2 separate regions of the Homo sapiens genome follow, and region 1 is linked to region 2. The links come from fine-mapping of genetic effects on gene expression. A gene starts in region 2. The other region holds a variant in brackets. All regions are shown on one strand. Distances are between the middles of the regions.

Region 1 (12,171 bases), 33 kb before region 2:
CTGAAGAGCCCCTGCCCCTGGGGAACACCAGCGTCCGGGCGGCATTTGTGCACGTGCTGGGGGACCTCCTGCAGAGCTTTGGGGTACTGGCTGCCTCCATCCTCATCTACTTCAAGGTACCATCATTGGAGACCTGCCCCAGCCTTCCTCCCCACAACCACATCCCAGCCCACTCCTTCCCAGGTCCCAAAGCTTCCTTCCTCCTCCCTCCAGCTCCTCCCTCCCACCTCCCAGGACTCTCCCAGACATGAGTCATGTTCCCTGTCCCCTCTTCAGGGTTTTGAGGGGCCTCTCAGGTCATGTTTGTTCAAGATACCCCTAGATCTTCCTCTGAAAGGTCCCTGGTTGTTGGGCTTAGGGGTCTCTTTCTCTGCAGCCTCAATACAAGGCAGCCGACCCCATCAGCACCTTCCTCTTCTCCATCTGTGCCCTTGGATCCACCGCTCCCACCCTCCGAGACGTTCTTCGAATCCTCATGGAAGGTGAGTCGGGCACCACAGCTCCCCATCCCTGTGGCCCTCTCTGACTTTACTCTCGCAGTGGGCCATCACTTTTTTCTTTGAAGATAGTACGGGAAGAAGGCTTGGCTCATGGGGTCTGCTGCTGGAACAAGGATTTGGGCATAGGGTGAATTGTAGGGGTCAAAAGGAGAGTGCATACAGGATAGGGGAGGTGGAATCCAGTGGTGGGGGTGCTGCTTCTGGGCAGGAGTAGCCCTAGCAGTAAGGCATGACTGGTGCTGGTTGCAGGTACCCCCCGCAATGTGGGGTTCGAACCTGTGCGGGATACGCTGTTGTCGGTGCCAGGAGTCCGGGCAACCCATGAGCTGCACCTGTGGGCCCTTACGCTCACTTACCATGTTGCCTCTGCACACCTGGCCATCGGTGAGTCACACTGGCCCCAGCTAGTTACTACCTGGAACATACCCCACCCCAAACATGGGACCATAGCTTGAGTTACTGGAATTGTTTCAGTCTTTTTTGATCTGTCTCTGTTTCTCTGTGTCTCTCTCTCTCACATAGACACATACACACACACACACATGCACGTGCGCTCGTGCATGTTGGAGACAAGGAGTCTCCATCCACTGGATGCAGTGTTCTGGGGGCAGTTTCACCCTCTTTGAAGTAGCACAGGGAACCAACAACCCTTTAAAAGATCATTAGTACCTACAGGTCTAGTGATGGGGCACAGTTAGGTAAATTACAGCACCTCCACCCTGAGGTATCACATAACTGTTAAAAATGATGCTTGTGAAGACTGTACAGCAACTATGAAAAATGTTTATGGTATAATGCTGAGAAAAAAGCTGAATATAAAATTGCATCTACATTATGATTCAACTATTAAAAATATATATGGTGAGTCATGAGCTGACAAAGGATTTTTGAGTTTCTTCCAGATGCAAGAAGCAATCAGAGTCATGCAATTTGTATGCCAAAAATATTATAATTTGTGGGATATTTGATGGAAACTCTAGAGGGACAATGAGACAGATATTTAACAACTGGATTGTCCTGGGAAATCGGGTGGTATGGCTGCTGAAATGTTGAGCTGTATGTTGACACTTAATGACAGGAGAGAATAGGAGACTGGAAAGAGTTTAGTGTGTTAGCATGGTTGATTGGGGTGAGTCTCTCCAACATTTGATTTGACACTTTTATGCTGTTCATACAATACAGAAAGAAAAGCAGGCTTCCATTCACGCCTGGCTTTAATGCTGTGCAGCCCCTTTCCCTGTCCTTATCTCAGTCCCTGCCTGTTCTTTCTCCCCCGGGATGGATGCCGCCTCTTATCACTCTCCCACAGACTCCACCGCTGACCCTGAAGCCGTCCTGGCTGAAGCCTCATCCCGGCTCTACTCCCGGTTTGGATTCTCCAGCTGCACCCTGCAGGTCGAGCAGTATCAGCCGGAGATGGCCCAGTGCCTGCGCTGCCAGGAACCCCCCCAAGCCTGAGCCATGGCCCTGCCCTCACCCCACTGCCAGGCCGAGGCTCAGCCCCAGACTCTCAGCATCTGCTGCCCTGATCACAGAGACGGGACCGAGCCAGGTCCATACCCCTTCCTCTCTCCCTCCTACCACCTGCCAGTTTCCCCAGCCTCAGCCCCAGCCCCAGCCCCAGTGGGCAAGACCAAAGTGTGGCGGGGAGTGGGGTGGGAGTCAGGGGAATAGATGTGACTAGTTCAGGGGCGGGGACTCCCAGGCCTCAGTGTGGCAGGGTGTGTTGAAGGCCTGTGGTGCCATCTCCCCATGGTTCATGTGGAGCCACGAACATCCTTTCCCTGCAGTCCATTTGTCTGTGTGGCAGGCTGGCTGGCTGGGGGCATCTGCCTGTCTATGTGCTGTTGGTGTGCCTATGCCTGGGGGAGGTCAGTAGGGGCCCCCTCCCCACATGGCCCTCGCTCTGTCTATGCAGGGGCCCCAAAGCCCGCACTTTGTCCGTGTGTCTTAGCCCTGTGGTTTTGTCTGTGTGTGTGTGTGTGTGTGTGTGTGTGTGTGTGTGTGTGTTCTTGGTGCTGTGGCCTGTGTGTCTCTGTGCCTATGTGGCTGTGCTATGGTTTCTATGAGTCTGCTCCATCCATGTGTCTGTTTGGGGGTCTATCTCTCCATCCCTCTGTTGGTGCTGTGCCCTTGGCTATCCCTGAAAGAGGGAGGACTCCGCTGCAGCTCCACCAATAAACTTGTGTCTCACTGCATCTTTCAGCCTGTGTGCTGACTCCTCAGGAGGGGGAAGTCAAATAGGTCACTTGAGAACAACAGAATCCCTCCTGTCCCTTCCCAGCCTCTGGAGTGACCTCCCACAGACCTCCTGTCCCTTCCCAGCCCCTCCACCCTCAGATGGAGGGTAAAAGCCACCAGTCTCTTTACTCCCCTTCCCCTGGCTCACAGCATGCCTGGGTCCTTGGCTCAGGGACAGTCCCATGTGCCCTGGGCTTGGTTGCAGGAGAATGCTGGAAGGTAAGGAGCCAAGGAATCCCTGGGAGTCAGTCGTTCTCAGAGGTCCCTGCATGCCAGTGGGCCTCAGGCTGGCTGGAGGGAGGCTGGGTCCCTTTGAGGGAGAATGGCTAGACCATAGCACTGATGTGGGCTTGGTTCTCAGGCCATCTAAGGTGTCCAGCGGTAGGGACCCCTCAACCCTGATAGCAGCCAACCCTGAGTCCAGGTTTAGGCTGTGAACACCAAGGACCTCTTTTACACCTATTCCCCCTTTGTCTTAAGAACTGCATATTTTGACACATTAAGTCTTAAAATCAGGCTCATTAAGGGATTGTTGATTTTCTCTTTAAAAAAAATCAAACTCAAGCTGGACATAGTGGCCTGTGCCTGTAATCTCAGCCCTTTGGAGGCTGAGGCAGGAGGATTGTTTGAGCCCAGGAGTTCAAGACCAGCCTGGGCAACCTAGGGAAACCCCTGTCTCTACAAATAATTTAAAAATTAGCTGGGTGTGGTGGTGCATACCTGTAGTCCCAGCTATTCAGGAGGCTGAGGCAGGAGGATTGCCTGAGCCCAGGAGGTCAAGGCAGCAGTCAGCCATGATCATGCCACTGCACTTCAGCCTGGGCAACAGAGCAAGACCTTGTCTCAAAAAAAAAAAAAAATCAAACTCACTGGGTTTGGTGGCTCATGTCTGTCATCCCAGCACTTTGAGAGGCTGAGGCAGGAGGATCGCTTGAGGCCAGGAGTTCAAGACCAGCCTGGTCAACATAGTGACACCCTGTCTCTACAAAAAAAATTAAAAATAAAAATAAATTAGCTACGTGTGGTGGTGTATGTCTGTGGTTCCAGCTACTCAGGAGGCTGAGGTGGGAGGATCACTTGAGCCCAGGAGGTTGAGGCTGCAATGAACTATGATCATGCAACTGCACTCCAGCCTGAGCGACAGAGCAAGACTCCATCAAAAAAAAAAAAAAAGAAAAAAAAAGAAAAATCAGCTAGGCAAGATGGCTCACGCCTGTAATTCCAGCACTTTGGGAGGCTGAGGCAGGCAGATCACTTGACCCCAGGAGTTCAAGATCAGCCTGGGCAACATGGTGAAACCCTGTCTGTACAAGAAATACAAAAATTAGCTGGGCATGGTAGTGTGTACCTGTAGTCCCAGTTACTTGAGAGGCTAAGTGGGGAGAATCACTTGAGCCCAGGTTGTCGAGGCTGCAGTGAGCCATGATTGTGCCACTGCACTCCAGTCTGGGCAACACAGTGAGACTGTGTCTCAAACATGGTCAAACCCTGTCTCTACTAAAAAATACAAAAATTTGGCCGGGCACAGTGGTTCATGCCTGTAATCCCAGCACTTCAGGAGGCCGAGGTGGGTGGATCACCTGAGGTCAGGAGTTCGAGACCAGCCTGACCAACATGGAGAAACCCCGTCTCTACTAAAAATACAAGAATTAGCCAGTGTGGTGGCGCATGCCTGTAATCCCAGCTACTCAGGAGGCTGAGGCGGAAGAATTGCTTGAACCCAGGAGGCAGAGGTTGCGGTGAGCCGAGATTGCATCAGTGCACTCCAGCCTGGGCAACAAGAGTGAAACTCTGTCTCAAAAAAAAAAAAATTAGCTGGGCATGGTGGTGGGCACCTGTAATCCTGGCTACTCGGGAGGTTGAGGCAGGGAGAATCGCTTGAACCCGGAAGGCAGAGGTTGCAGTGAGCTGAGATTGCGCCACTGCACTCCAGCCTGGGCGACAGAGGGAGACTCTGTCTTAAAAAAAAAAAAAAAAATTAGACTCTGTGCTTTGATTTTAGATCTAGTGCTTCAGGCCTTCCCACCATGTTGATAAAATCCCAGCCCAAAGCAAGGACGTTGAGCATTTTCAATAGCCCATGCATATTTCTGTGAGCCTTCCTCATAATAGAAATATCTTTATTATCAGATTATTTTTACTATAAAAGCAATATATACTTGTTTTAAGGGTACAACAAAGGAAAAGTATATAAAGTAGAAAGTGAATGTTTCCCCTGTAATCTTACTTTCCGAGAAAACTGCTAATCCTAGTATGGGGTCAGTATTTCTACATAATAACAAAAATGGGGTCATCTTATAGGTGAGATCGTGTTACCTGTGTTTATGACTCAACCATGCAGCCTAGACTCATCTTTCCATGTCAAGACCATAGATTTCATTCCTTTTTAAAGGTGAGGCTTTTGGACTCATCAGAGGTAGCCCCCTCCCTGATGTCCAGCTGGGAGCCTTAGCCCAGGCTGGGTGAGACGCCACTGCCCACGTCAGGGTGTGGGAGGCTGGCGAAGCGAAGGGCTGGCAGTCCATCA[C/T]GCCCGGCGGCAAGGCCGCCCCAGCTGCTCGCCATGCTTTGCTGGTTCCTGATACTTTCTCATTTTACGTCTCATTGATTATAGGCCCCAGGTGACAGGATGGGGGTGGGGAAGAGTGAGGAAATCGAGGAGAGGGAAGGAGGGTGGGGAACAGGAGGACTCGATTTTCACCCTATGAAATGCTTTAAGCCACAGCCTGTCCTATCTGTGCGATGCTGGGTCCCTTTGCAGGGGAATGCTCAGGGCAGGTGAATGCCTTCACCAAGCATCCAGTCCATCTTCTGCCCATAGAAGGAGGAGACTCAGGGAGGGAAAAAGACTTCCCCAGGGTCAGCCAGCACATGCCCAGGCTCTCATTCCCACTCCAGGCCCCTTTGAAGCTCTTGCCTAGTTGAGTTTCTCAGCAAATCTTTCCTCAGCCCTTCCAGCAGCCTGCTGCCGCTGGCACTCCCGTCCTGGGGCTCTGGGGTCAGACCCTCTGGTTCTGCTCTGCCTTTACTATTATTCTAGTCACAGTTAACCTCTCTGCGTCTCAGCTTTCTCAATTATAAAATAGTGATTACGTGATATCATGGGTGTGAATGTGCCTGGTATATAGAAGGTGTATATAAGAGTTAGCTTTTGGGTTGAACCCAGGATGCAGGGGAGAGATTTCAGGAGAAGAGAGTGGCCCGGCACCCTGACAGCAGGGACAGGAAGCAGCAATCATTGAGCTTATTTTGTGCAAGGCACTGTGGTGCGGACAGTATCCTGTGCACCTGACAGATGGAGAAGCAGGCTCACCTGCCCATGGTCGTGCAGCTGGTTCCACTCGGTTCTGAGTTCTGGCCCCTGGACGTCCCCAGCCCTCTCTCTATGCCATCCTGCCTTTCCACTCACCTTCGGGCATCGGGAGGATGAGGAGACAGGTCTCTGGAGCATTCTCCCACCTTCACACTGGGCCACCATCCCCGGGAGCCCAGGAAATCCTTATCTGCAGAGCTGCCTGCACTCCCCCATTATCCTCCTATCCTCCTTCTCCACTCGCTTATCCAGAAGTCCCTTTCCCCTGGGTGCCCTTCCTTGATGATAGATGGAGGAGGGAGAGTCGAGGGGAAGGGACTGGGCCTGGGAGGGGTGAGGGGAAGGCAGGGGAGAGCAACGCAGGTGGGGGAGGGCCCATCCCTCAGCCCAGCCCCAGCTCTTTACACAGCTGATTAACTAGGGGAGGGGTGGGCTTTCGGGTCAGAGAGGAACCAGAGAAGAGGGACAGCCAGGAAAGGGGTGAAATGGAGAGTGGAGGGAGAGAGAGGCAGGCCGGGTTTCCCTGCTGAGAGCTGCAGGGCTATTCAAAGGAGAAACTGGAGATCAAAGGGCCAGAATGCAGGGTGCGGACCTGAGAGGCTTCGTGCTGCAGTGACTGGGCGGAGGAGCATGGGCACATGGGCAGGTCCTGCCCTTCTCCCAAGGCTGCCCACCTGGGGGTGGCCCAGGGTGAGTCCTGCACCACGTTTAAGAGGCGAAGGCCAAGGCCCAGGGCCCAGCCGGCAGGGTCAAGAGGAAGCCCGGGTGATAAGCACCACCCTCCAGCAGCCCTCCCGCCCGGTCAGGGCCCCGGTGCAGCCGGCTTAAAGGAGGCATTTGGCCCTCCCGCTTCCTAGAGCCCGGCTGGCTGGGGAGCAGCGCCCCCAACTGGGGCATACGCCACCGCAGCGGCAGAGGCAGCCGGAAGTCTTTGCAGGGAGTCTCAGGACTGGGGTCAGGACGGGAAGACCCTTTTCCCCTCCGCCAGGCAGAGACCCTCACTGTGGAGAACTGTAGTCAGGGTGTTCCTTTTATAGTTGGAGTACTCTTTCTTAACTCTCCAACCTCCCTTCCCCCAACTCTGGCAGTTCCCAGGGCCTCCCTGTCCCTGGCTTAAGTCCCAGGGACACCTCGTCAGTACCTGGTCAGTACCTTCCAAGGGGTGCTTGGAGGGGCAGTTCCCAGGCCCCAACAGGGCAAAGCCTGAGGCCCCAGATGCAGCTGTGTGGGGGCTTTTTCCTTTTTTGAGATGGGGTCTTGCTATGCTGCCCAGGCTAGCCTCAAACTCCTGGGCTCAAGCAATCCTCCTGCCTCGGCTTCCTGAGCAGCTGGGACTCCACGTGTATACCACCACACCCCCAGATGCAGCTGTGATCACCAGCAATCCCATACACAAAGCAGGCCCCGTTTCCTTAACTGGCAAGAGAAAGAACGTGGGGAGAGTGGGTAGGCAGGAAGGCCCGGGTTGCCAGAGCCTGTGCCTCCCTCCTTCAGCCCTGGTCCTAGCCTTTCTCTGCTCTTGCCATTCCCCGTGTGGTACCCCAGACCCCCTCATCTGCTCTCTGGCTACAGCATCCTGGGGACAGGAAGAAGCCCAGACCTGGAGAAGCTCACTCAGAGGACACGACCCAAACAGCCTTAACCTCCGATTCCATTCTTTTGTTTGCTTTGGCTCAACAACGATGGCTATAAATTTTTAAAGGACTGTAGCCAAAAGCCTGGGGAGAAATAGAAGGGAACTGAACCCAGAATATTAAAAAGATAAGAAAGCTTACCAAAATAAGCAGGGTTCAGACCCTACAACAACAAACTTGCTTTTTCCTGACCACGGAGTCTGCCCAAGCATGGCCTCCCTGCTTTCCCCCATCCTGCTGGACCAGGACGTGGTCACACAGGACTGCTGGGAGACACAGTAAAACGGTGAGTGGCCTACTGACGGCACACTCCTTGAAGGAAGGCATGCTCCCCCAGCACTTAGCTCACAGCCAGACACCAAGTACATGCTCAGTATGACTGCTGGTGATGGAAGGAATGGGTGGAAGGATGGTGAACAGATAAATGTCAGGCCAATGCAAAGTCCATAAAATATCTTCTAATCCCCAGCTCCTACCAATGGGCCAACAAGCAGGTTTCATACATGCTGATTCCCGAGGTATAAATCTGTATCTGATGGTAGCATTTGATGGTAGCAATTCAGGTGCTCTCAAGCAGGCAGTCACTTCTATTTCTTTTCTTTTTTTTTTTTTTTTGAGATGGAGTCTCGCTCTGTCGCCCAGGCTGGCGTGCAGTGGCGTGATCTTGGCTCACTGCAAGCTCCGCCTCCCGGATTCACACCATTCTCCTGCCTCAGCCTCCCGAGTAGCTGGGACTACAGGTGCCTGCCACCACACCCGGCTAATTTTTTTTGCATTTTTAGTAGAGATGGGGTTTCACTGTGTTAGCCAGGATGGTCTCGATCTCCTGACCTCGTGATCCGCCCGTCTCGGCCTCCCAAAGTGCTGGGATTACAGGCGTGAGCCACCGCGCCCGGCCAGCTCATTTCTATTTCTTGGGTCCTCCAGGGAGTGCAAGCCCTTCTACGCCCCTGCCCTGGACATGGCTTCCCCCAGCCCCACCACAAATTCAGTGTTTAGCTTCCCCTTGAGTCCTGCTTGTGACTCTATTAATCTCCTGCGGATTCATCACAGCTTCCCTGACCTTCTCTAAAGCCTTTGAGCTCCCAATCTCAACACCCATTTTTTTCCTTGCCACTTGGTAAATGACCTCAGCTTCTAAACCAGTCCCTCAGTAACCTCGTGAAACCTGGTTACCACCACAAAGCATCAGCCTAACAACTATTGTGACAAGGTCCTTGCCTCAAATTTCCTTCTCTTTGGCCTGCTACAGGATTTGAATCTGCCAATACGTCTCCCGTCCCTCACACACTTGGAATTCTGGGCCTCTTGAGGGCTTTCTCCTGAGTTCTCCTGCGGCCCTTGCTGAAATTGAGGCTTGCCGCTATTCTCTTGGTGAACAAATATGCATATTTTAAAAGCTTCAATTACCTTTATGTTGATGCTTCGGTCAACACATTTACTGAGCACCTACTATGTGCTCAACCCTGTTCTGGTGTTTGGGATACATCAGTGAGTAAAGTCCCTGCTCTCATGGCACTTGTGTTGTCACATATAAATGCCACCTGTCTCTATTGTGCTTGCTCCAACTCCCCAGCTCCATTACCTCCATGACATCTCCATATAGATGGCCCACGGCAGCTAGGTATCATGCCCAAATGGAATCAGCCCTCCCCTACCCCAAACTGGCTATCTGGTCTACCTTCATCAGTCTTCTTTCTTCCAGTCTTGAGGTCCCACACTGTGCAGTCATTCTTCACTCTCCTCTCTCCTCAGTGTTATAACATCTATTCCTATCTCTGAATCTAGAACCTCTTCACCCATGATCTGTATTTACTGCAACAACTTCCTAATTGGCGTCCTGATGGTGAAATGGCTCCTTTCTCTCTTCTAGGCACTGTTGCCAGACGAGTCTTCCATTAAGCACTCATCCCATCCTGGCCCTCATTCTCTGCTCCTCACCTCCACCAGCCAATGCCCCCTCATTGTCCCAGGGGATATTACTGCAGAACTACAGACACTTTGCAATTTTACACTGGGAATTGCCAACTACCCTTTTAAAGCCTATAGGTGGGTTGGGCATGGTGGCTCATGGCTGTAATCCCAGCACTTTAGGAGGCTGATGCAGGAGGATCACTTGAGCCCAGGAATAGACCAGCCTGGCCGGGCGCGGTGGCTCATGCTTGTAATCCCAGCACTTTGGGAGGCTGAGGCGGGCGGATCACGAGGTCAGGAGATCGAGACCACGGTGAAACCCCATCTCTACTAAAAATACAAAAAATTAGCCGGGCGTGGTGGCAGGTGCCTGTAGTCCCAGCTACTCGGAGAGGCTGAGGCAGGAGAATGGCGTGAACCCGGGAGGCGGAGCTTGCGGTGAGCCAAGATCGCGCCACTGCACTCCAGCCTGGGCAACAGAGCAAGACTCCGTCTCAAAAAAAAAAAAAAAAAAAAAAAAAGTAATAGGCCAGCCTGGGCAACATGGCGAATCCCCATCTCTATAAAACAAAACAAGAACAAAAATTAGCCAGGTGTGGTGGCATGTGCCTGTGGTCCCAGCTATTCTGGAGGCTGAGTGGGGAGGATAACTTGACTCCAGGAGTTTGAGACCAGCCTGGACGACATGGCAAAACCCCATCTCTACAAAAAAAACACAAAAAATTAGCCGGGCATGGTGGTATGGCCATGGTGGTCCCACCTCCTTGGGAGGCTTAAGTGGGAGGATCACTTGAGCCCATGAGGTCAAGGCTGCAGTGAGCTGAGATCGTGCCACTGCACTCCAGCCTGGGTGACAGAATGAGACCCTGTCTCAAAAACAAAATTTTAGTATAAAAAATAAAAGCCCACAGGCATACTGACTTGCCATGGTTGCAGGTAGTTAGTTGTAAGGGCCAGGACTAGAGTGCAGCTGACAAAGCTCCCGGTGGACTACCTATGTTGAGGGGGATGTCTCCTTCACTAGGGTGGACAGTGAAGAGGTGGGAGAAAATGGCTGTAATAGCAACCCAACGTTAGCCACACTTCTTTCAAGGTGGGGGATAGTCAAAGGATTCATCCAAGTGTCAAAGGGATGTATCTGTAAAGCGCTTAGAACAGTGCTTGGCATATAAATGTTTCTTATAGAAGAAATAGATCAAACCTCTTAAGTACCTCAGGAAGCAAACTAACTTTTTATGCTTCATGACAATTACATGGCAGATATGAAGTTGTTTCTCAGTGGATGTGGAACAGGCCCAAAGGTATTGTATTAAAGGGCTAATTTTGGCTGGGTGCGGTGGCTCATGCCTGTAATCCTAGCACTTTGGGAGGCTGAGGCGGGCAGATCACTTGAAGTCAGGAGTTCAACACCAGCCTAGCCAACATGGCAAAACCCCATCTCTACTAAAAATACAAAAAGTTAGCTGGGTGTGGTAGCACATGTCTGTAGTCCCAGTTACTCGGGAGACTGAGGCAGGAGAATCACTTGAACCTGGGAGGCGGAGGTTGCAGTGAGCCAAGATTGCACCACTGCACTCCAGCCTGGGCAACAGAGCGAGATGCCATCTCAAAACGATAAAAATTTTAAAAAATAAAGGGCTAATTTTGGTTTTTGCTGGTAAGTTTTTTCATTTTGTTTCCCAATATAATGAGATTTACTTTCTGGTCATACGGGAAAAAACTTTATTCAACTCAGAGCTGAGCTATGATTAGGAGAGCCAAAGAAAGGCTCAGGACAGGAACATCTCCCACCACTTAGCAACTAAGTAAAATGCGTCCGCTACTTGGCAGAAAACACTGCTTCTACTTGAGGGTGAGGCTATCCAAGTTCTGTGGGAATCTGTGTGCGAGTCCCAAGTACTCATGAGTACAATTGGGAAAATAATCTCTGACTTGTTCTAAGAGTTTAAGCAAGGAAATGGAGTCTCTAGAAAGAAAAAGAAGAGTTCTGGAAATGGTACTCTATTTTCCAACCAATAAAGTCCTCCAGGTACCTGAGGGAGACCTTGTCAGGCAGGAATCTGGGTTTGGAAAGACTGGAAAGGGTTAACATTAGCAGGACTGGAGGCCTCCACACTCTAGGACTTAGCATTATACTTAATACCCTCCTTCAAATAGTACCTGTGGTTGTAAATTAATATTTTTGTTGGAATTGACATCCAAGCCCCCTGTTCTGGTCCGTCAGACTCTCAACCCTCACAATACTCAGTAGGAATCTCCTGCTGCGTTCAGTGTCTCCTCACTGTACCGCAGACACAATTTCCATTCCTCTCGAACTGTACTGTAAAGGAGACTCTTCGTCCTTCCTCACGACACAGCTCACACCCCACGGCACAGGGTTCTCCGACTCCGTATCTGTGCTGACCTCTTCTGGAAACTGGTTCCCTACAGGACTGCTTAGATTTGTGGCTTGTCTTTCCCACTGGTTTTTGGATGCCCTTAAAGCCAGAAATGACCTTTCCTTTTAACAGAAAGGTGGGTTGTTAAGTCAAGAAGTCCTGCGTATGAGTCTCAAGGTGAGTGGCCCAGCAAG
Region 2 (11,102 bases):
CCTGAAGAAAGGCAAGCTGTTGTGCACAATGCCTTCATTGGAACCATCATTGGCGTTGGTGAAGAGAGGAGCCCAGTCTGCTGGCAGTGAGTCTGTCTCCACAGCAAACCCATGGTTCTGGGATGTCAGAAAGCAGCGCCCAGAGCCCACCAACAAGCAGGGCTGGTTATGGCCTCGGTTCCCATATCTGGAGGTAGAAGCATGCCGAGTCACAGGCCCTGCTCACCCTCTCTTCACTACTGAACCTACCCCAGCTCTCACCGATCTCCTGTTCTCAGTAGCCTCACTCCTGTTTCCTTTTTGTTTTTTTTTTTTTTTTGAGACGGAGTCTCCCTCTGTTTCCCGGGCTGGAGGGCAATGGCACGATCTCCGCTCACTGCAACCTCCACCTCCCAGGTTCAAGCGATTCTCCTGCCTCAGCCTCTGGAGTAGCTGGGATTACAGGCGCACGCCACCATGGCTGGCCAACTTTTGTATTTTTAGTAGAGACAGAGTTTCACCATGTTGGCCAGGCTGGTCTCGAACTCCTGACCTCCAGTGATCCGCCCACCTTGGCCTCCCAAAGTGCTGGGATTACAGGTGGGAGCCACCTCACCTGCAACCCCCCCGCTCCTATTTCAACACGAATAAACACCAACTCTCTTCTCATTCCTGAGACACCCCACCCCTCATGCCACAAGTATGGGCCCCTTCTGCTCCCCACAAGTCCCACCTCATCTTGTAAGTCTTGGCCCCAATGGCTAAGGCCAATAGCTGGTGTCCCAGGCAGATCCCAAAGACAGGTCGGGGATTAGGCTCAGATAAAACACGGCTCAGTGTGGATACGACACTGGGATAGGAGGCAGGGTCACCAGGCCCATTACTTAAGAAGAGACCCTCATACTCTGGAGTGGGCAGAAAAGATGACATCAAAATCAGTATTTCAATTACAGGAGACACACCTGCAGCCCCCCCAGCCCATGAGAGTGTTAAGTCCCAATGTCTATCTTCTTCACTGCAACTCCTACTGACTTTTAGCAATTGGACCAAGGGATAGATCTTCCACCCAAGCTGCTTGTCTGAGGCCCTGAACAGGCCCCAGCTACTCACCTTGGCTGTCTAGTGCATGGTCCCAGGGTACCACAGTGACCTCAGCCCCACGCTGGCAGAGGCATCGGATCTGATTATACTTGAGGCCACAGTCCAAAGCAAGGATCCGAGGGGCACCCCCTGTATTGAATACCCGTGGAGTCTGAGAAATAGACGAATAAAGGGCAACAGTTGGCAGCTGTGCTCAGTGGGTATAAGATATGCCTGCACCAACTCCTACCTTCAAAGCCTCCTTTGATTCTCTCCTGTGTTCACCCCCCAATTGTGGGCAGAATATAACTACTGTGCTAGAGCTTGCAACACTCTCCCACTCTACCTCTGTACCTTAATGGAGACCTCTGGTACCAGGGGGCGGGCATTGGGGTCCAAGAATGGCAGGGATGAAGGTTCTGTTCCATTCTGGACCAGCTTCCCCAGCAGAGACCCCTGTTCCCGCAACTTCTTGGTCAGCTCCCGAGTGTCTACTCCTGTCAAAATAGCACAGTCTTAGGGATCACATTCCTACAACTCAGTCATCTGTGAGGTTAGACTTCCAGAAGCACTTCCATTCCAGAGCCCCAGTCACACACAGCTGTTCTATGTGCATCAAAATCCTGGGCCATTGTGACAGAAGTATACTACCATGAAGTATTCCTGCCAAAAATATCACATCTGAATTGAACAACTCTAAATCTATCCATTTATAGAAAATAATATAAAGGGAAAAAAAGAATACGCTAAGTAACACTACAGGAGTGTAACCAAGTAAGTGCAGACTATGGGATACTAGATACAGGAAAAATGACCTGTTTTCAAATAGGTTACAAGGTCCACAGATTAAGAGACTTATCAACCAAATGCAATGTGTGAACCCTGTTTAGAGCAAGATTCAAATGAACAGAAAAAAAAAAAAAAAAAAAAAAAAAAATTGGGAAATTTTAAACATTGCCTGGACACTTGTATTAGGGAATTATTAATTTTTTTAGTGTATGACGTTATTATGATCATGTTTTTTAAAGATTCCTTTTGCATAGATATTGAACTATTTGTAGATGAAATGATATGATGTCTGAGATTTGCATCAAAATAATCCAGTGGTGGTGATGAAATAAGATTAGCCCTAAGCTGATGATTATGGAAGGTGGGAGTTCCTTCCTGTGTTGGAAATTTTCTTTCTGAGTGATAGTTCAATTCTTTCTCCCAGCCCAACTCCAATCTAAACCTTCCAACTATCACAATCTTAGAGTCAGGTCCCAGCAGATTACAGAAACCTTGATTCTTTCCATCCAGGCATGCTGTGCTCTGCCCAAATATGCCCCTGCTTGCCACCATACCTTGCAAGCCAGGGATGCCATGCTGCTGCAGCCACTCATGCAGGGTGCGGGTGGCACTCCAGTGGCTGGGAGTAGGACAGCACTCTCCCACTACCAGTGCTGCTACGTGGATGCCCGAGGATTCAAACCACTGTAGATGGAAAGAGATTGTGAGAAGCCTCAGGCCAAGTTATTTCTTTGCAGCATTTTCCCGATTGTGTGGCCACAGACCCTATATTCAGCCACATTGAATGGCCTTCAATATACCAAACTTTTGGTGCTTTTGCATAGGTATTTCCATTTACCAACAACGCTCTCTCCTATACGAAACACAACCCACAGGCCCAGGGTGCCCCGATGATCACTGAAAATGACATTTTCCTTTTTATTTATTTATTATTTATTTTTTTTGAGACAGAGTCTCACTCTGTCACCCAGGCTGCAATGCAGTGGCGACATCTAAGCTCACTGCAACCTCTGCCTCCCGGATTCAAGCAATTCTCTTGCTTTAGCCTCCCGAGTAGCTGGGACTACAGGCGCCCGCCACCACACCCGGCTAATTTTTTGTATTTTTAGTAGAGACGGGGTTTCACCATGTTAGCCAGGATGGTCTCAGATCTCCTGACCTTGTGATCTGCCCACCTCAGCCTCCCAAAGTGCTGGGATTACAGGAGTGAGCCATCGCACCTAGCCATTCCTTTTTTTTTTTTTTGAGACAGGGTCTTGCTGTTATCCAGGCTGGAGTGCAGAGTACAGTGGCACAAATACACGGTTCACTACAGCCTCAATCTCCTGGGCTCAAGTGATTCTCCCACCTCAGACTCCTGAGTAGTTGGGACCACAGGTGTGGATCATCACACCTGGCTAATTTTTTGAATTTTTTGTAGTGACAGCGTCTCACCATGTTGCCAGGCTGCTCTCAAACTTCCTGGGCTCAAGCGATCCCCCCACCTCAGCCTTCCAAAGTGCTGGGATTACAAGTCATGAGCTACCGCGCCCCGCCTCTTTCTTCCTTTATCTAAAACTGAAATCACAAATCCTTTCTCTGTGAAGCCCCTCCCACTCACCCAATACAGCTTGTGCCTCCATCTTAGAGCTGTTTTAATACTTTATTTCCTCTCTTGCTATTTACGTCATATGATGAATATGTATTTGTGTCTTTGTCACGAAACAGAGAACTCAAGAGCAAGGCACATGGTGTCAGTCAGACATTTATTGAGGTGCAGGCATTGCAAAAGATGCTGAGAAAAGAGCAATGAGCAAAAAAAGATGAGGTTCCTGTCTTCATGATGTTTATTTCTGACTTAGGGAGCTAGAAAACAAGGTAACACCCATATAAATATTAATTATAGAGTGTGATTAAAAACTGAGTAAGATAGGGAGGTACAAAATACCCCATTACCAAATAAAAAACAAAGGTTCAGGGCACAATACTAAGCATGCCTCCCAAACTTCATTTGGGATTATTTAAAAAAGAAAAGGCCAGGCGCGGTGGCTCACGCCTGTAATCCCAGCGCTTTGGGAGGCCGAGGTGGGCAGATCACCTGTGATCGGGAGTTCAAAACCAGCCTGACCAACATGGAGAAACCCTGTCTCTACTAAAAATACAAAATTAGCTGGGAATGGTAGCCCATGCCTGTAATCCCAGCTACTCGGGAGGCTGAGGTGGGAGAATAGCTTGAACCCGGGAGGCGGAGGTTGCAGTGAGCCAAGGTTGCCCATTGCACTCCAACCTGAGCAACAAGAAAGAAACTCTACCTCAAAGCAAAATAAAAATAAAAAAAAATTAAATAAAAAAAGATAACATACAAGCCTGGGCAATGTGACAATACCCGGTCTCTACAAAAAATACAAAAAAAGTAGCCAGGCATGGCGGCAGGTGCCTGTAGTCCCAGCTACTTGGGGGGTTGAGGTGGGAGGACTACTTGAGCTCAGGTGGCAGAGGCTGCAAGTGAGCCATGATTATGCCACTGCACTCCAGCCTGGGTGACAAAGTGAGACCTTGTCCCCAAAAAAAAAACAAAAACCATAAACTTGTTACTCAATAGATAAGCGTTTAATAGCTACATAGAAACAGAAAGTTTATGTGGGAGGGATCAGCATATTTAAACTGCATTCAGCTGGGTGATGAACAGTTTAAGGAACCTGCATTCTGAGACTGTCCAGGGATCTGAAGGATAGTTTGGCAGAACCCTCCCTGGCCAGGTGGAGTAATCCATTTATATGTGCGAGTGGCTCCAAGAGGCCTTTCCCACCCTGATCCTAATCAGGCCTCAATTTTGTAGTTTTATAAACTCAATTTAGTCAGTGTGTCTAGAGTTGACAAAGGTGATGACTGACAAAGGTTAACCAAATTCACAAGAATTCACTATCAACTAGAATGCAGTGTATTTGTAGGTTTGTGATGAACCTAGAAATTCTTTTCCAGGAAGAACAACATGTACGTCCTTTATCCGGAGCTCACTCTCCCCAGCGTCAGGGTGGCTGGGAAGGCAAATTAAGAATTAAAGGCTTACACCTGCAGTGAGGCCAAACAAATTTTGAGAGATACTACTCTAGGCCAGATTGACTTCCTCTATTACCTTAATTACTATATGTTGGGTTTTTTTTAATGCTTGAACTGTCAGAGGGCAACTTAGTTTCCAAATTTCAGAGGTGAAGGAATAGGGGAAACCTCACTGTAGGAAGAAACTCAGTTTTCTCACCTAGAGGTAAGAACACAACTGAAAAGCAGAGAATCAGACGAGGCCATGTCAGTAGGTCTAGAAGATAATGTCACTGGTTTTGTAGGTAAACTGGCACTCACTGTCACAGAGAAGTATGTGACCCTAGTTTCCAGTCTCTTTCCACTAATTTATGTAGTCCTAAAAAGCACTGCTCCCATCTGACTCTGCTGCTAAAAAAAAACCTTCAATGGATCCTTTACCAAACTAAGCTGACTCTGCTTTGGCTTCAGGTCCCTCCATGCCCACCGGATTTAACTTATCTGCAGGCTTTTTTCTCCTGACTTCTGCATGCCTAACAAGTTGGACAAGGCTGTTCCCTTACACCTCTTTTACTTTTCCTTGATCCATGCCTTCACTACATACAGAATGCTTTCAGCTATACCTGGAGCCTTGATGCCCTTAACAAAGGCGGTAGCTTTTTCCTGAGGCCTCCAACACTCTGTGCCTCCCAAGGCACTTAACAACCCCTAACTACAGTTACTAGTGATCTTAGTCCTTGACTTTACTACTTCAGTGGGTATGTTTTCTGCAGGATGCCCAGCAGGGTGTCAACGTCTCCTACTTCACTAATAGTTAACAATTACTGACTTGAAAAGGAATGTAGAGAAAGCACTGGGTGTGGCTACCTTGCAGAGACCGAACTCATCCATTTCATCTGGGGGGATGCCATAGTTGCCGATCAGAGGATAGGTGAGCACTAAGATCTGTGCCTTGTAGGAGGGATCAGTGAGGGCCTCGGGGTAGCCGACCATGCCGGTTTGAAACACTGCAAGAAAGAAGCAGGGCTGGGCTCCGGTAGGGCACCCTTCGGAACACTCCCCGCGCGATGAGCACGCCCCAGTGGAGGCTGCCTTGGTCGCGAGGGGTTTATGGCGCTGGGGCCCATGGGCACCGAATGGGGGAAGGGGGTACGCTGGCGGGAAAATGGCGGGGTCTGGACGGGGAAGGTTGGGAGGAGAGGCGCATCACAGAGTGGGATAAGGTCTGCAGCCTAACCGGGCTTGCTTACCCACTTCCCCGGCAGTCGACACGGCGGCCCCAAAGGGCTGGCCCCGCAGGACCGACCCGTCCTCCAACACTAGGGCCGCCATGGGAAGGGAGCTCAGAGGCGGGGGCGAGTACGGAGAAGCGGGAAGGACTGCAAACTCCACTGGAACCACGTGAGGACGGCGCGCCGGAGTCGGTCCACGTGGCTAACGGCGCGGGGCGCTGGAGAGAAGCCGGGCGCGGCAGCGTAGGAGCCTCGGGCGCGCTTGGCGGCAGCAGCAGAGACTGCGGCGGCGCGGACACAGGCGGCGTGAGGGGCGGGGCCGGGCACGTAAGGGGCGGGGTCCGCGGAGCCACGGGGAGTGGGCCCCCGTGGTCTCCGCACTGCAAAACCGGGGGAAACCTGAAAAAACCGGCTGCCCTAAAGCAGTCCCTCCCACCCCAAGCAAGAAACACGTAAAGGCAGGGCGCCTTTCCTTAAAAAGAAAGAGAGGAAAAAAAAAGAAAAAAGTGTTTATTATAGGCAACAACACCAATGGGAACTGGTATTTGTCTACACCAAGGGAGTGCAATTTTTCATCTTCCAATGGCGGCCTCAACCTTGAGGCGAATCCACTGGCGAAAGATGCCTTTCTAGGAAGCAGAGCTCCCTGACTGGGCTAAGATAGTTCAGATTGATCTTAGGTCAATGGTAAGACCTATGTAGTTCATGAAGTCTTGGCTTTTCGGCGCTGGGTCGCCCAAAGCAGAATGGAGACGGATAGAGTGGTGGCTCCCAGAATCCCGAAGAACATAAGCAGTGAGAACGAGCCCTGTGAACAACAGACCAAAAAACACCCCCATACAACGTTACACGGAGGGCCACATCCTAACACCTAGTTCTTTCCTAATATACCTATCACTTTGTCTAGGGCAATTCTATAGTTTTCCACCTATAGGAAATTTGTATCAGCTCCTGGTCTTGTGGCTCTCCTTTCTGAGAAGACTTGCTCTATGCATTCCTTGTATCCCTAGTTAGACGGCCTAATTCCTCACCTGGCGCATACACTTGTATCCATGGAAACCATCAGCACAAACACACTGCAAAAGACCTGGACCATCAGGTACACAAGATCCATTCTCAGGACACATTTCTGGAGGCCAGAGAGAAATAGAGAACATCACTTTATCCATTTCATTAGGCATATTTCTCAATTATCTGTTTCAACTTAGATTCTCTCAATCATTGCTAGGATAAAGGAAGAAGAAAGAAAATTACAGATAAAAACAGTAACAATAATGTCAGGCCTCTGAGCCCAAGCTAAGCTATCATATCCCCTGTGACCTGCACGTATACATCCAGATGGTCTGAAGCAACTGAAGATCCACAAAAGAAATGAAAATAGCCTTAACTGATGACATTCCACCATTGTGATTTGTTTCTGCCCCACCCTAACTGATCAATATACTTTGTAATCTCCCTTACCCTTAAGAAGTTTCCTTGTAATCTCTCCCACGCTTAAGAAGGTTCTTTGTAATTCTCCCCACCCTTGAGAATGTACTTTGTAAGATCCATCCCCTGCCCGCAAAACAGCACTCCTAACTCCACTGCCTACCCCAAAACCTGTAAGAACTAATGATAATCCCACCACCCTTTGCTGACTCTCTTTTTGGACTCAGCCCACCTGCACCCAGGTGAAATAAACAGCCTTGTTGCTCACACAAAGCCTGTTTGGTGGTCTCTTTACACGGACACACGTGAGACAAATAATAGAGTATATCTTAAGATCTTTTCTTTCAAAGGGGTTATAGCCCCAGAACTCTGAATGAAAGGCGCTTAAGCAACTTTGTCTTTCTGATCTAAAGTGGAAAATACAAGGGAGAAAAGACAATTCCCAGAAGTTTGGAGGTAAGACAGCATACCTGGGTCCCCAGTGTTATTGCAAAGGTTCTTTTGCCCTTGACAGATTTGGTTGTCTATATAAGAGGTGATAGTATTCCAGGCATTAATTCCTCCAGGACAGTTGACATGTTGTGGCAGTATCCTATAGAGAAATGTGGTCATAACATGCAAAGTTGCTAAACTCACAGCATCATCCCTCTTTGATTCTCTTCCCATACCCTTACTCACAGAGTCTGGAGCTGAGTAAAGCCACGGAAGGTGTTGGCCAAGTCACCTTTGAGGGGGTTTGCTTGCAGGTCTCTGCAAAGTACACAATGTTAGCACTTTCGCATCAACCTACATTATATTAGCCTTTTGGGTGGGAGGTACCTAACTACTTACATGATGACAGTGGTATGTGCCTGATGAAAGTTTGGACCAGGGTCCTCCAGAGAACAGTTCTGGAGATCCAGCCTGAGGAAATAAAGTAATCAATATAACTGTGTGTTCCTCTTTTTCTTCAGCCACGGCACAGTTTGTATTTGACTACACAACCCCCTTTTCAGCTAATAATTGAACACAGCTGTGTTCAGAGTCACACACTAGGAGCTGTGGTAGACATTTTAATTCTGCATTATCCAATAGAATCGCCACTTGCCACATGTAACTACTTAAATTTAAATTAATGTACCTTAGGCTGGGTGTAGTGACTCACTCCTGTAATCCCAGCACTTTAGGAGGCCAAGCGGGGGAGGATCACTTGAACCTAGGAATTCAAGACCAGCCTGGGCAATATGAATGAGACCCTGACTCTATAGAAGAAAATTAATTTAACCTAAAAATTCAGTGTCTCATTTGCACTAGCCGTATTTCAAGTGCAAATGGAATAACCACGTTAGTAGCTACTGTACTGGTTAGTACAGATACGGAACATTTTCCTTTTTTGAGACAGTCTTACTCTGTTGCCCAAGCTGGAGTGCAGTGGCACGATCTCGGCTCACTGCAACCTCCATCTCCCGGGTTCAAGCAATTCTCCTGCCTCAGCCTCCTGAGTAGCTGAGATTATAGGCACATGCCACCACGCCTGGCTAATTTTTGTATTTTTAGTAGAGACGGGGTTTCACCATGTTGGTCAGGCTGGTCTTGAACTCCTGACCTCGTGATCCGCCCATCTGGGCCTCCCAAAGTGCTGGGATTACAGGCATGAGCCACCGCGCCTGGCTCGGAACATTTTCATAATCACAGAAAGTTCTATCCGCCAGCACTGTTCTAATCGGTTATGCATCTATTGGGAGAAATCTGTGTTTCTTGTCTACATTAGTGAATCTCATATTATGATTTTCAGATCCACAGAGGGCCTTTAAATTAAAAAAAAAAAGTCACATAAATCAAAGTTTTTTTCCACATGTATTTTCTACCACAGATTGGTTGTAAACTGCTGGACATTAAGGATCATGCCACGTTATTTTTTTCTTCAATATCTACTGCTATCCATTCCTTTATTCTACAAATATTTACTGAGTCCCTACAAACTGCAAACACTGGGAGAATGTTAAAAATATGTAACACAGTATTTTGGCCTTTGAGTGGCTTACAATGTAGTTAGAGGAACAAGAGCACTGCCCAAAAATAAAAGCACTGTAAACATTAAATTACAATATAAAAGAAACCACAGGACAGTGTATAAATATATTTGAGTGGACACTAAAGATTACAGGAAGTTTTTAAAAAAGGTATTACTGAATCGCTTGAACCCAGGAGGTGGAGGGCGCGGTGAGCCGAGATCATGCCATTGCATTCCAGCCTGGGCAACAAGAGTGAAACTCCGTCTCAAAAAAATAAATAAATAATAATTTAAAAAAGGTATTACTCTGGAACTTAGTAGTAGTAAATATTCACAAAAGATGTTGGAATTGAAGGATGGATATTTCCTAATTTGGTAGAGGAAGGCAATTTCAGGTATGGAGAGAGGCCTGAACAAAGGTGGAATGCCTTTGAGGGCAGGCAAATCTGGCTGGTGCAGACCATTATGGAGGTTTGAGCGGACAAGTAATTGGAAATAATGTTGGAAAAGTGGGTTGGGACTAGTATGGTACTTAATGGTTTGAATTTTGTCCTGAGACAAAATTTAATACTAAATATAGTATTAAAGCAAGAGAGTGATAATGGAAAATGTTGGTTTTCTAAAAGCTTAATACAGAGAAGTATTTAGGTAGATGAAGGAAAGAAGAGAATGGAAGCAAAACATAACATTTTGAGTTTGAAGTTAGGGTGCACTCAGTAGGAAATGCTTAATAGGAAGCTAGAGGTACCCGTATGTACCTGGAGTGTGGAAAGGTTAAAAAAGACACTAAAGAGATCTAGTTTTGGTAGACATCTGCGTGATGATTACAGCTGAAACCATAATAGGTGGATTCTTTAAATAATATAAGGGTATAAAAGCAGCCAGGCTAAGGAATGGCCTGTATCCAGCATCTAGGGATGTCTTCCCCTCACCCCAAGATGGTGCCCTTCTGATTCAGGCAGCAACGGGCATGCAGCATTAGCTCTCGTGTCGTTTTACAATAAAAGGCCACTTTTGACAAATTTTGCACGCTCCCTGGACATTGGGTGCATATCTGCAGAAGAGAAAGAAACATTAGAACTCCAGAAAGAAAAGCCAAGAAAAGAACAAACGGCGATCAAGAATTAACTGCCAGTACACGTTTCCAGAATTCCTCTAACACGGGGCCGATAAATGGATAAACGGCTCGTGTCCCACCCTTGTAACAGGCTAGGCTAGGAGATGCCATCTCTTCCTCCAGAGTCCTGCGCCGAATCAGCTCCCGACACTTTCAGTACCAGATATCGCACAGGGAAGGTCCTCATCTCTGAAGATCACTATTCGAACTTATTTATTATGCTTTCTGCAGAGACTTCTCAATCTGACAGCCCTAGTTTGGCGCGGTGTAAAACGACCGCAGGTACGTAAAGAACTCATCAAGCATTACAAAAGTACAGCCCTACCACCGCACGATATATGGCGTTCGTGCGTAGAGAGATTACACAAGAGGCAGAGGACCCGTCTGTAGAAAGAACTTAAAGTTATTCTAAAATTAAGGGGCGAAATCAAGTTTCACAGGTCTTTGAAAGTCGGCAGGACTGGGG

The links. PIP is the estimated chance that this variant, and not a neighbour inherited with it, causes the effect. A credible set is the group of variants that fine-mapping cannot tell apart.
Region 1: its variant is the best candidate, but not a certain one, in a credible set for the expression of CAD in whole blood (TOPMed, PIP 0.63).

The regions. Positions count from the first base shown.
Region 1 is chr2:27,245,099-27,257,269 of GRCh38, reverse strand. SLC30A3 (solute carrier family 30 member 3) reads left to right here. Exons shown (of 8, transcript NM_003459.5): 5 at 1-116; 6 at 377-482; 7 at 750-884; 8 at 1,810-3,586. The coding sequence ends at 1,958. Among named protein-coding and RNA genes, the nearest start is that of SLC30A3, 12 kb to the left of the region's middle. RefSeq lists enhancers at 6,224-7,017, 7,018-7,812 and a silencer at 7,208-7,388. The variant C/T (reference allele first, on the strand shown) is at 5,269.
Region 2 is chr2:27,212,648-27,223,749 of GRCh38, reverse strand. It overlaps CAD (carbamoyl-phosphate synthetase 2, aspartate transcarbamylase, and dihydroorotase), which reads right to left and starts at 6,381. Exons shown (of 44, transcript NM_004341.5): 1 at 6,117-6,381; 2 at 5,734-5,873; 3 at 2,403-2,532; 4 at 1,414-1,556; 5 at 1,090-1,231; 6 at 713-884; 7 at 2-187. The coding sequence starts at 6,198. It overlaps ATRAID (all-trans retinoic acid induced differentiation factor), which reads right to left. Exons shown (of 7, transcript NM_001170795.4): 2 at 10,452-10,573; 3 at 8,358-8,429; 4 at 8,205-8,276; 5 at 7,997-8,118; 6 at 7,130-7,227; 7 at 6,593-6,906. The coding sequence ends at 6,802. It also overlaps a transcript of SLC5A6 not described here. RefSeq lists a silencer at 6,280-6,509.